2 separate regions of the Homo sapiens genome follow, and region 2 is linked to region 1. Evidence: fine-mapped expression QTL. A gene starts in region 1. The other region holds a variant in brackets. All regions are shown on one strand. Distances are between the middles of the regions. Region 1 holds the start of PNMA8B (PNMA family member 8B). Region 2 overlaps PNMA8C (PNMA family member 8C).

Evidence for each region. PIP is the estimated chance that this variant, and not a neighbour inherited with it, causes the effect. A credible set is the group of variants that fine-mapping cannot tell apart.
Region 2: its variant is the best candidate, but not a certain one, in a credible set for the expression of PNMA8B in fibroblasts (GTEx, PIP 0.73).

The regions. Positions count from the first base shown.
Region 1 is chr19:46,493,572-46,498,942 of GRCh38, reverse strand. PNMA8B (PNMA family member 8B) reads left to right here and starts at 3,076. Exons shown (of 1, transcript NM_020709.3): 1 at 3,076-5,371. The coding sequence starts at 3,478.
Region 2 is chr19:46,421,013-46,426,383 of GRCh38, reverse strand. It overlaps PNMA8C (PNMA family member 8C), which reads left to right. Exons shown (of 1, transcript NM_001386793.1): 1 at 1-1,687. Among named protein-coding and RNA genes, the nearest start is that of PNMA8C, 5.2 kb to the left of the region's middle. RefSeq lists enhancers at 1-58, 1-277, 2,875-2,924. The variant T/AATTT (reference allele first, on the strand shown) is at 3,231.

The DNA of each region.
Region 1 (5,371 bases):
GACAGGGTCATTCTCTTGCCCAAGCTGGAGTGCAGTGTAGCATGATCATCTCTCACTTCAGCCTTGATCTCCTGGGCTGAAGCAATCCTCCTACCTCAGCTTCCTGAGTATCAGGGACTACAGATGTGTGTCACTAAGCCTGGCTAACTTTTGTATTTTTTGTAGAGACGAGGTTTTGCCATGTTGGCCAGGCCGGTCTCAAACTCCTGGGCTCAAGTGATCTGCCTGCCTCGGCCTCCCAAAGTGCTGGGATTACAGGCGTGAGCCACTGCGCCTGGCCAAAATCTATTCTTAAAATTCATTTTTCTTCCCTCTTTTCTATTTATTGAAGGTGGCCCCCTAGGAAATTTTGTATTTTTTGTAGAGATAGGTTTTCACCATGTTGCCCGGGCTGGTCTCGAACTCCTAACCTCAAGTGATCTGCCCGCCTCAGCCTCTGAAAGTGCTGGGATTACAGGATTACATGGTGAGTCACCATATTTCTTCTTTTTTTAGATCAATAGATGCAGAAAAAGCAGCTCGTTTTTTGTTTTGTTTTGGTTTGGTTTGGTTTGGTTTGGTTTGGTTTTTTTGAGACAGCGTCTTGCTCTGTCTCCCAGGCTGGAGTGCAGTGGCGCAATCTCGGCTCAATGCAACAACCTCTGCCTCCCAGGTTCATGTGATTCTCCTGCCTCAGCCTCCAAGTAGCTGGGATTACAGGCGTGCGCTACCATGCCCAGCCTAGATTGGAGATTCAAATGTCAAAAATGACACTTTGTAATCCCAGCACTTTGGGAGGCTGAGGTGGGTGGACCACCTGAGGTCAGTGTTGGCTGGCTGCAACTAGGAGTTTTAACATTGCACGTGCGGTTCGAATTTGGGGCTGGCATTCTATTCCTGCTGGACAACGCTGCTCTGGAGAAAAGAGTCACATCACATCCATCTGTGGATCAGGAAGATCAGAGGAGGAAAAAGTGGGGGAAAATAGGAGTGAGTAAGCGGTTTGCCCAGTTGCTGTGGTAACCTTGCAGTTAAACTCTCCTTAAACATAAAAAAATCCAAACACAAAAGTAAGGGGTTGGGCCTGGTGGCAAAAACAAAAAACTCGAGGTGTTTTGGTTTCCTATTTATTTGTTTATTAACAGATGCTTTGGGCTGAGCACGGTGGCTCGTGCCTGTAATCCCAGCACTTTGGGAGGCCGACGCCGGCAGATCACCCGAGGTCAGGAGTTCCAGACCAGCCTGGCCAACATGGTGAAAATCCATCTACTAAAAATACAAAACTAGGCCGGGCACGGTGGCTCACACCTGTAATCCCAGCACTTTGGGAGGCCGAGGCGGGCGGATCACGAGGTTGGGAGTTTGAGACAAGGTTGCCCAACATAGTGAAACCCCGTCTCTACTAAAAATACAAAAAATTAGCTGGGCGTGGTGGCGGGCACCTGTAATCTCAGCTACTTGGGAGGCTGAGGCTGGAGAATGGTTTGAAGCCGGGAGGCGGAGGTTGCAGTGAACCAAGATCACGCCACTGCCCTCCAGCCTGAGTGACAGTGCGAGACTCTCTCTCAAACAAACAAACAAACAAAAAACTAGTCAGGCATGGTGGTGCATGCCTGTAGTCCCAGTTACTCGGGAGGCTGAGGCAGGAGAATGGCTTTAACCCGGGTGGTGGAGGTTGCAGTGAGCCGAGATTGCTCCATTGCACTCCAGCCTGGGCGACAGAGCAAGACTCCATCTCAAAAACAAACCAACAAAACAGATGCTTTTATAATGGTAAGTTCTCAACAAATACTTCTCTTAGCCATCTTTCATGGAGCACCAGCTGTGGGCCAGCTGCTCTTCTAAATGCTTTCCTGGATTATTCCCTTTAATCCTCATGAGAACCCTTTGAGGCCAGGCATGGTGGCTCACCATGTAATCCTGTAATCCCAGCACTTTCAGAGGCTGAGGCGGGCAGATCACTTGAGGTTAGGAGTTTGAGACCAGCCTGGGTAACATGGTAAAAACCCATCTCTACAAAAAATACAAAAACTTGCCAGACGTGATGGTGTATGCCTATAATCCCAGCTACTTGGGAGGCCTGTCATCCTTGCTACTCAGGAGGCTGAGGCAGGAGAACCGCTTGAACATGGGAGGCGGAAGTTGCAGTGAACCAAGATTGTGCCATTGCACTCCAGCCTGAGTGACAGAGCAAGACTCCATCTCCAAAACAAACAACAACAAAAAAACAAAACCCTTTGAGGTAGGGATGATGGTTGAGATATAAACCTACCAGCTGGTCTACAGAGCCAGATTCATATAGAGTAGGGGACAGCCTCATGGCCAACAAGGGACAGAGAAGCAAATGCATGTTTACAGTAGCTATGACTGACGTTCACACGCCCCAGTCTGCTGTCCCAGTCAAGGGAAATGCTTTCTTGCAAAATTCATGCCTGGTCTCACAATCATACATATGCTCAAAGCGTGTGCAAAACCACAGGATTTATTGTGCATGCATAGTTCAGAATACAGGAACGTGTATGGGAGTGAGGGCCGGTCCCATCGAGTGGGGCCTGTACCCTGCAAGTGAGGCCCATATACCCTGAATGGTGTCTTGCTCACAGGTGGTGCCTGGGCCCCCCTATTTGATACTGAGACCCATATACTGTGAATGAGGCCAGTATCCCGAGTAAGTCCTGGTCCTACGCTGCAAGGCCAGTGCCCTTTGATTTAGGCCTATATAATCCTGAATTCCACCTGGCCCCTGGAAGGGGGAATTGTAACCCCCAGTGATGCCGGTACCCTCTGGAAGGAGGCCTCTATCCCCTGAATGAGGTCGGGTATCCTTGAGTGATTTCTGGCCCTCTGTGGTTTCGGCCTTGTTTTTTGCTGGTTAATGAAAGTGGTGCTTCCAGGCCCCAAGTCCTTGTCATCGGGACCTTTAAGAAAAGCGTCTCAGGCCACAGCGACGCAGACCCCAGCTCAAGGCTGCACCGTTGCCATGGAGACGGTTGGGCGGGGGACAGGGGAGGGTGTGCGGCTCCCTCTGCGCAGGCGCACGCGCGAGCAGCCGCGTCGCAGCGGAACTGCTGAGATTCAGGCCCAGGGTGCGCGCTCAGACGCGGCGCGAGCGCCAGGCAAGCTGCGGCTGCTACCTCCCACGCCTCTCCAGGTGCACTCGGCGCCGCCCCCCTGCACCTGGCTGCGGTGCCGAGTCACTCAGGCCTGTGTCAGGGAGAGAGGGAGGGAGCTGTCCTGGAAAGCAGACACGTAAGCCCCCCGCGGATCCTCAGACAGCTCTGGAGAGGGGTCCCGGGGGAAGGTCACTGCGTCCAGCCGGCCAGCAGGCAGCTAGAGCCCCCGAGCCCCGAGCCCCACTCCAGCCTTGCCACATTCACCGGAACCGGGACTCTAAGCCCTGCAAGTGGCTTTCTAGGGTTGCATTGACACCGTGCGCTGCAGCCCACCCCTATCTCGGGCTCCCTGCTGCCCCAAGATCAGCGCCAAGGGGGCTGCACCATGGCCATGAGCCTTTTGCAGGACTGGTGCCGGAGCCTGGACGTGGACGCGCACAGGGCCCTGCTGGTCACCGGCATCCCGGAGGGCCTGGAGCAGGCAGACGTCGAAGCCGTCCTGCAGCCGACCCTCCTGCCCCTGGGCACGTTCAGGTTGCGACACATGAAGGCTTTGATGAACGAGAAGGCCCAGGCCGCCCTGGTGGAGTTTGTGGAGGACGTCAATCACGCTGCCATTCCCAGGGAGATCCCAGGCAAGGATGGGGTCTGGAGGGTTCTGTGGAAGGACCGTGCGCAGGACACGAGGGTCCTGAGGCAGATGAGACGCCTGCTGCTGGATGACGGGCCCACGCAGGCCGCGGAGGCTGGGACCCCCGGGGAGGCACCCACCCCTCCCGCTTCGGAGACGCAGGCCCAGGATTCTGGGGAGGTAACAGGGCAGGCTGGCTCGCTTCTTGGGGCAGCCAGGAACCCAAGGAGGGGCCGTCGGGGTCGCAGAAACAGAACCAGACGCAACAGGTTGACCCAGAAGGGCAAGAAGAGAAGCCGAGGAGGACGGCCGTCTGCTCCCGCGAGGAGTGAGGCCGAGGACTCTTCCGACGAGAGCCTGGGCATCGTGATCGAGGAGATCGACCAGGGCGACCTGAGCGGAGAAGAGGACCAGAGCGCGCTGTACGCCACGCTGCAGGCCGCTGCCAGGGAGCTGGTTAGGCAGTGGGCGCCCTGCAACTCCGAGGGGGAAGAAGACGGTCCCCGCGAGTTCTTGGCTCTGGTCACCGTCACCGACAAATCGAAGAAAGAAGAGGCAGAGAAGGAGCCAGCTGGGGCCGAATCCATCCGCTTGAACACCAAAGAAGACAAAAATGGTGTCCCCGACTTAGTGGCCCTGCTGGCTGTGAGAGACACCCCGGACGAGGAGCCGGTGGACAGCGACACTTCGGAGAGCGACTCGCAGGAAAGTGGGGACCAAGAAACAGAGGAGTTGGATAATCCTGAGTTCGTGGCCATTGTGGCCTATACCGACCCGTCGGACCCCTGGGCCCGGGAGGAGATGTTGAAAATCGCTTCTGTTATCGAGTCGCTGGGCTGGAGCGACGAGAAAGACAAGCGAGACCCCCTCCGACAGGTCTTGTCCGTCATGTCCAAGGACACTAACGGGACCCGCGTGAAGGTGGAAGAGGCGGGCCGCGAGGTGGACGCCGTGGTCCTGCGCAAGGCCGGGGATGACGGGGACCTCCGGGAGTGCATTTCCACCTTGGCGCAGCCGGATCTCCCTCCCCAGGCGAAGAAGGCTGGGCGTGGCCTCTTCGGGGGCTGGAGCGAGCACCGTGAGGACGAAGGGGGTCTTCTGGAGCTGGTGGCGCTCCTGGCTGCCCAGGACATGGCGGAGGTGATGAAGGAGGAAAAAGAAAACGCCTGGGAAGGCGGGAAGTACAAATACCCCAAAGGCAAACTGGGGGAGGTATTGGCGCTCCTGGCCGCCCGGGAGAACATGGGGTCCAACGAGGGGTCGGAGGAGGCTTCGGACGAACAGTCCGAGGAGGAGTCGGAGGACACCGAGAGCGAGGCGTCGGAGCCGGAGGACAGGGCATCCAGGAAGCCCCGGGCCAAGAGGGCGCGCACGGCCCCCAGGGGCCTGACTCCGGCCGGCGCGCCTCCCACCGCTTCCGGGGCCCGCAAAACCCGCGCGGGCGGCCGAGGCCGAGGCCGGGGCGTCACTCCCGAGAAGAAAGCCGGGAGCCGGGGCTCGGCCCAGGACGACGCCGCAGGAAGCAGGAAGAAGAAGGGGAGCGCGGGCGCCGGGGCCCATGCCAGGGCAGGCGAGGCCAAGGGCCAGGCGCCCACTGGATCCAAGGCCGCGCGCGGGAAGAAGGCCCGTCGGGGCCGGAGGCTGCCCC
Region 2 (5,371 bases), 73 kb after region 1:
CTCACTGATCTGTAAGCGGCTCTTGAAAAGCTGTCGTCTTTCTCTACACGCTGAGTCTCTCTTACAGAAGTGGTCAGAAGCGGGACCCTTCTGCCCCGATTGGCGCCTGGGGTGAGGGTGTGAGTCTCCCCAAGTTAAATTCCAGAAGCTCTGGCTTGGTGAGGAGGAGTGAACTCCACTCTCTAAAGAAGAGGCAAGGCTTCTGGGCAATGGTCCAAAAGGAGGTAAATCATTAAGAGGCCATTTTCAAGAGTTACCAATGAACGACGTTAACACTGAGGTGAAGAAGAATTTTAAAAATCAGGTAAAATCCAAATACATGTGAGTAGGCAGATCTTTTGCTCAGAGACAACGGACCTGTCAATTTGCAAACTTGTTAGTTCAAGGATCTGCAAAGGTTTGACTGAATCTCTTTTCAAAAATGTAACTTACACACAACACAAAGACTCAGCCTACCAAATTGTAATGTCAGAGACTCCTAACGTCTTTTTTTTTTGAGACAGAGTCTCGCTCTGTCACCAGGCTGGAGTGCAGAGGTGCAATCTCAGCTCACTGCAACCTCTGACTCCCTGGTCCAAGCGATTCTCCTGCCTCAGCCTCCCTAGTAGCTAGGATTACAGGCATGAACCACCACGTCCAGCTAAATTTTGTATTTTTACTAGAGAAAGGGTTTCACCATGTTGGCCAGGATGGTCTCAATCTCCCGCCTTGGTCTCCCAAAGTGCTGGGATTGCAGGTGTAAGCCACTGCGCCCAGCTTCTCTGTTGATTCTTTTTTTTTTTTTTTTTTTTTTTTTGAGGTGGAGTCTCCTTCTGTAGCCCAGGCTGGAGTGCAGTGGCACGATCTTGGCTCACTGCAACCTCTGCTTCCTGGGTTCAAGTGATTCTCCTGCCTCAGCCTCCTGAGTATCTGGGACTACAGGTGCGCACCACCACGCCCAGCTAATTTTTGTATTTTTAGTAGAGACAGGGTTTCACCGTATTAGCCAGGATGGTCTCAATCTCCTGACCTTGTGATCCGCCCACTTCGGCCTCCCAAAGTGTTGGGATTACAGGCGTGAGCCACCACGCCCGGCCTGATTTTTCTATTCCTTGTAAATGCCCAGCCTGGGCATACCCACTCGCAGAATATTGTACTACTGTGTTCGTTATTGCATCCCAGAGTCTGAGCTTGAATAAATGCTACGAAAGCCTCCAGCGTGTTTGTTGCATGCTGCTCTCCCATCAAGGCATAATCGTTGTATAATAAGGGATAGTGTGACATTTCTTATCATATTGCAGCATGAAGACTGTATTTTGTGCTTATTGTGGATTTCAGGGGTATAACATTTATATTTGTGATACACAACATGCGTGGTTGTTCAATGTTGCCCATGAAATCAAAATCCTACCACTTCTCTTTCAAGATTTTCTGGACCAAAGTGTATCCTGGGACTCCAATGCAAGTTGTCATGCAAAACTGTCACCATTTGAAGCTACTTAGCTGAGTGAAAACATCACTGGTAGGGCAAATCCCAAGCAAAAATTCACAAGTAAATTGAATGTGCCAGCTGTTGGAGGGCTGCATCTGGCTTCTGTAAACCCCTGATTTCAAAAGGGGGTTCAGCTAAAACTCTTCATTGTTCTTTGTGATTGAGATGCTCTTTTGTACAAATATGAACTCATAAAATAAATGTATGCTAATGAAATCATAGTCTGCCCCTTGACATATGGGGGGAAATCCATGTAAGATTTAATTTGGAAAAATGATGTGGCTGCTAAAACAAGTACTGAAAACTGCTTCCATGGCCTGAAGTCTTCCAGGACTGCATTTATTTTTATTTTTATGTACTTATTTATTTTTGAGACAGAGTCTCTCTCTGTTGCCCATGCTGGAGTGCAGTGGCGTGATCTTGACTCACTGCAAGCTCCGCCTCCCGGGTTCACACTATTCTCCTGCCTCAGCCTCCCAAGTAGCTGGGACTACAGGCACCTGCCACCACACCTGGCTAATTTTTTTGTATTTTTAGTAGAGTCGGGGTTTCACCGTGTTAGCCAGGATAGTCTCGATCTCCTGACCTCGTAATCTGCCCGCCTCTGCCTCCCAAAGTGCTGGGATTACAGGTGTGAGCCACCGCGCCCGGCGGAAACACAGCTTTCTTTTATCCTACGGACTTCTCAGGATGTCAGGTCATTTTCCAGTGGCTGGTGTGAAAGGTGAAACAATTTAACTGAAACAAAAACAGTAACAGCTATCTTGTGTTCCAGGCACTATGCCACATTCCTTCATATCATTAACCCATCATATCCTGCCAACCCTGTGAGTTATGGCCCTATAGGTCCACAATCCCTTATAAAAACCCTCAGCCAGGTGTGGTTTCAGGGGTATATGTGGTTCAGAGTTTTGGATTTTAGAAAAATGATACAGTGACTATACCTTATATTGTAGAATTTACTTCCCAGGGGGATGCGGGAAGCCCTTATAATCCCATCAATACTTCTGTAGTGGGCTAGGTGCAGTGGGTCACGCCTGTAATCCCAGTACTTTGGGAGGCCAAGGTGGGAGAATTGCTTGAGGCCAGGAGTTCAAAACCAGCCTGGTCAACACAGCAAGACCCCTATCTCTACAAAAACTAAAAAAAAAAAAAAAAAAATTAGGCACGGTGGCATGCACCTGTAGTCCCAGCTACTCTGGAGGCTGAGGTGGAAGGATCGCTTGAGGCCAGCAGATCAAGGCTGCAGTGAACTGTGATTGCACCACTGCACTCCAGCCTGGATGACAGAGTGATACCCCCCTACATCTCAAAAAAAAAAAAAAGACCAGATAAGAGATTAGATTATCAAACTGTACTATTATTAAGATCATCATCTCATTCTATGGATGAAGAAAGTAAAGCTCAGAAAGGCTAAGTAACTTGTCTAAGGCTACAGAGCAAAGCACAACAGGAATTGAAAACAGGCCTCTGACCACATTCTGTGCTCCTCACACTGATTCGGGTCTCTCTCAGTCTGGGAGGCCCCAGCTGACATCGGAGTCATAGAGCATGATTTCTCTGGTAAACGGCTGGGCAGAAGAAATTCTTCAGGATTCCTTGAGAAACAAGCCAGAGGTGGGTGGCACTCTGAGGGCCTGTTTGAAACTGCAGTACACGCTCTGGTTCTAAGTGGGGGCTTAGAGCAGAGAATAATCTTCGTGCATATTGAATAATCATATCTACCAGGCACTATTCTAAGCATTTTACACAAACAATT[T/AATTT]AATCCTCATAAGACTCAACACCATGAGACTGATACAATCTCATTCTCCAGATTTGGAAACTGAGGCACAGAGCCACACGATTTGTAAACAGAGCCAGGATGTGAACCGGAACTGAGTCTACAAACAGCTAGACCACACTGCTTTTTTTTTTTTTTTTTTTTTTGAGATGGAGTCTCGCTCTGTGGCCCAGGCTGGAGTGTTGTGGTGCGATCTTGGCTCACTGCAACCTCCGCCTCCTAGGTTCAAGTGATTCTCCTGCCTCAGCCTCCCAAGTAGCTGGGACTAAAGGCGCGTGCCACTACGCCCGGCTAATTTTTTGTATTTTTAGTAGAGTCAGGGTGTCACCATGTTAGCCAGGATGGTCTCGATCTCCTGACCTTGTGATCTGCCCGCCTTGGCCTCCCAAAGTGCTGGGATTACAGGCATGAGCCACCATGCCTGGCCCACTCTGCCTTTTCTAATAACTGTGAGCATTTACCATCCCTGGGTTCTGTGCCAATACCTATCATGGTCTCGTGAACTGCTCACAACCTCTCCATGAGGTTAAGTCTCATTACAACTGCCATTTTGCAGAGAAGGAAGCCAAGGCTCAGAGAGGTGAAGGAACTGACCCAAGATCACACAGCCACAGGGTGATAGAGCCAGAATTTGAACCCAGGCAGCCTAGCTCCAGAGCCCACGTGCTCCACCACATGGAGGGCTGGCACAGCACAAAGAGGAATGAGGTCTTGGTGGATCCAGGGAGACAGCACCCTGAGGCCTCCTCCCAACAGTCCTTGGTGAGAAACAGGGATTCTGAAGGCAGTCTCTGAGTCTCTGAGTGACCGACACATAACTTGTGATTCCGGCCAGGTGCAGTGGTTCACGCCTGTAATCCCAGCACTTTTGGAGGCTGAGGCAGGTGGATCACTTGAGGCTAGGAGTTTGAGACCAGCCTGGCCAACATGGTGAAACCCCGTCTCAACTAAAAATACAAAAATTAGCCGGGCGTGGTGTTGCGCACCTGTAATCCCAGCTACTCGGGAGGCTGAGGTGGGAGAATAGCATAAAGCTGGGAGGCAGAGGTTCCAGTGAGCCAAGATCATGCTACTGCACTCCAGCCTGGGCGACAGAGTAAGACTCCGTCTCAAAAAGGAAAAAAACATATATATACGTATATCCCAGCTGCATGTGCCCTCTGGTGCTGTGGGACCCCTGGCTGATGGGGCAGGAAGTTGGGGGGAACAGGGAAGGGGTGGGCATATGTGCCTAGGTGGGCACAGAGCACACAGCTCTTCACCTGCTGTTCCCTCTGACTTTCAGTCGCCCTTCAGGCTTTCTTTTTTTTTTTTTCTTTTTTATTTTTTGAGACGGAGTCTCACTCTGTTACCCAGGCTGGAGTGCAGTGGCGCGATCTCAGCTCACTGCAAGCTCCGCCTCCAGGGTTCACGCCATTCTCCTGCCTCAGTCTCCCTAGTAGCTGGGACTACAGGCGCCCGCCACCACGCCCAGCTAATTTTTTTTGTATTTTTAGTAGAGACGGGGTTTCACTGTGTTAGTCAGGATGGTCTCGATCTCCTGACCTCGTGATCCGCCTGTCTCGGCCTCCCAAAGTGCTGGGATTACAGGCGTGAGCCACGGCGCCCGGCAGCAGCTTTATTTCTAAGAACCAAAAACTAGAAACAACTCGATGGCCGACGACAGGTGAATGAATAAACAAACTGCAATGTATTCATGCAACAGAATATGACCTAGCAACAAAAAAGAATGTACTGGCCGGGCGCGGTCGCCCTCCCAGCACCTTGGGAGGCTGAGGCGGGCAGATCATGAGGTCAAGAGATCGAGACCATCCTGGCCAACATGGTGAAACCCTGTCTCTACTAAAAAGACAAAAACTAGCTGGGCGTGGTGGCGGGTGCCTGTAGTCCCAGCTACTCGGGAGGCTGAGGCAGAAGAATTGCTTGAACCGGGGAGGCGGAGGTTGTGGTGAGCCAAGATTGTGCCACAGCACTCCTCCTGTCACAGTTTGGTGACAGAGTAAGACTCCGTCTCAAAAAAAAAAAAAAAAAAAAGGAATGAACCTCAGATGCGTACAGCAACATCGGTGAACCTCAGAAGCGTTATGCGGAGTCAAAGAAGTCAGACCAAAAAGGACACACAC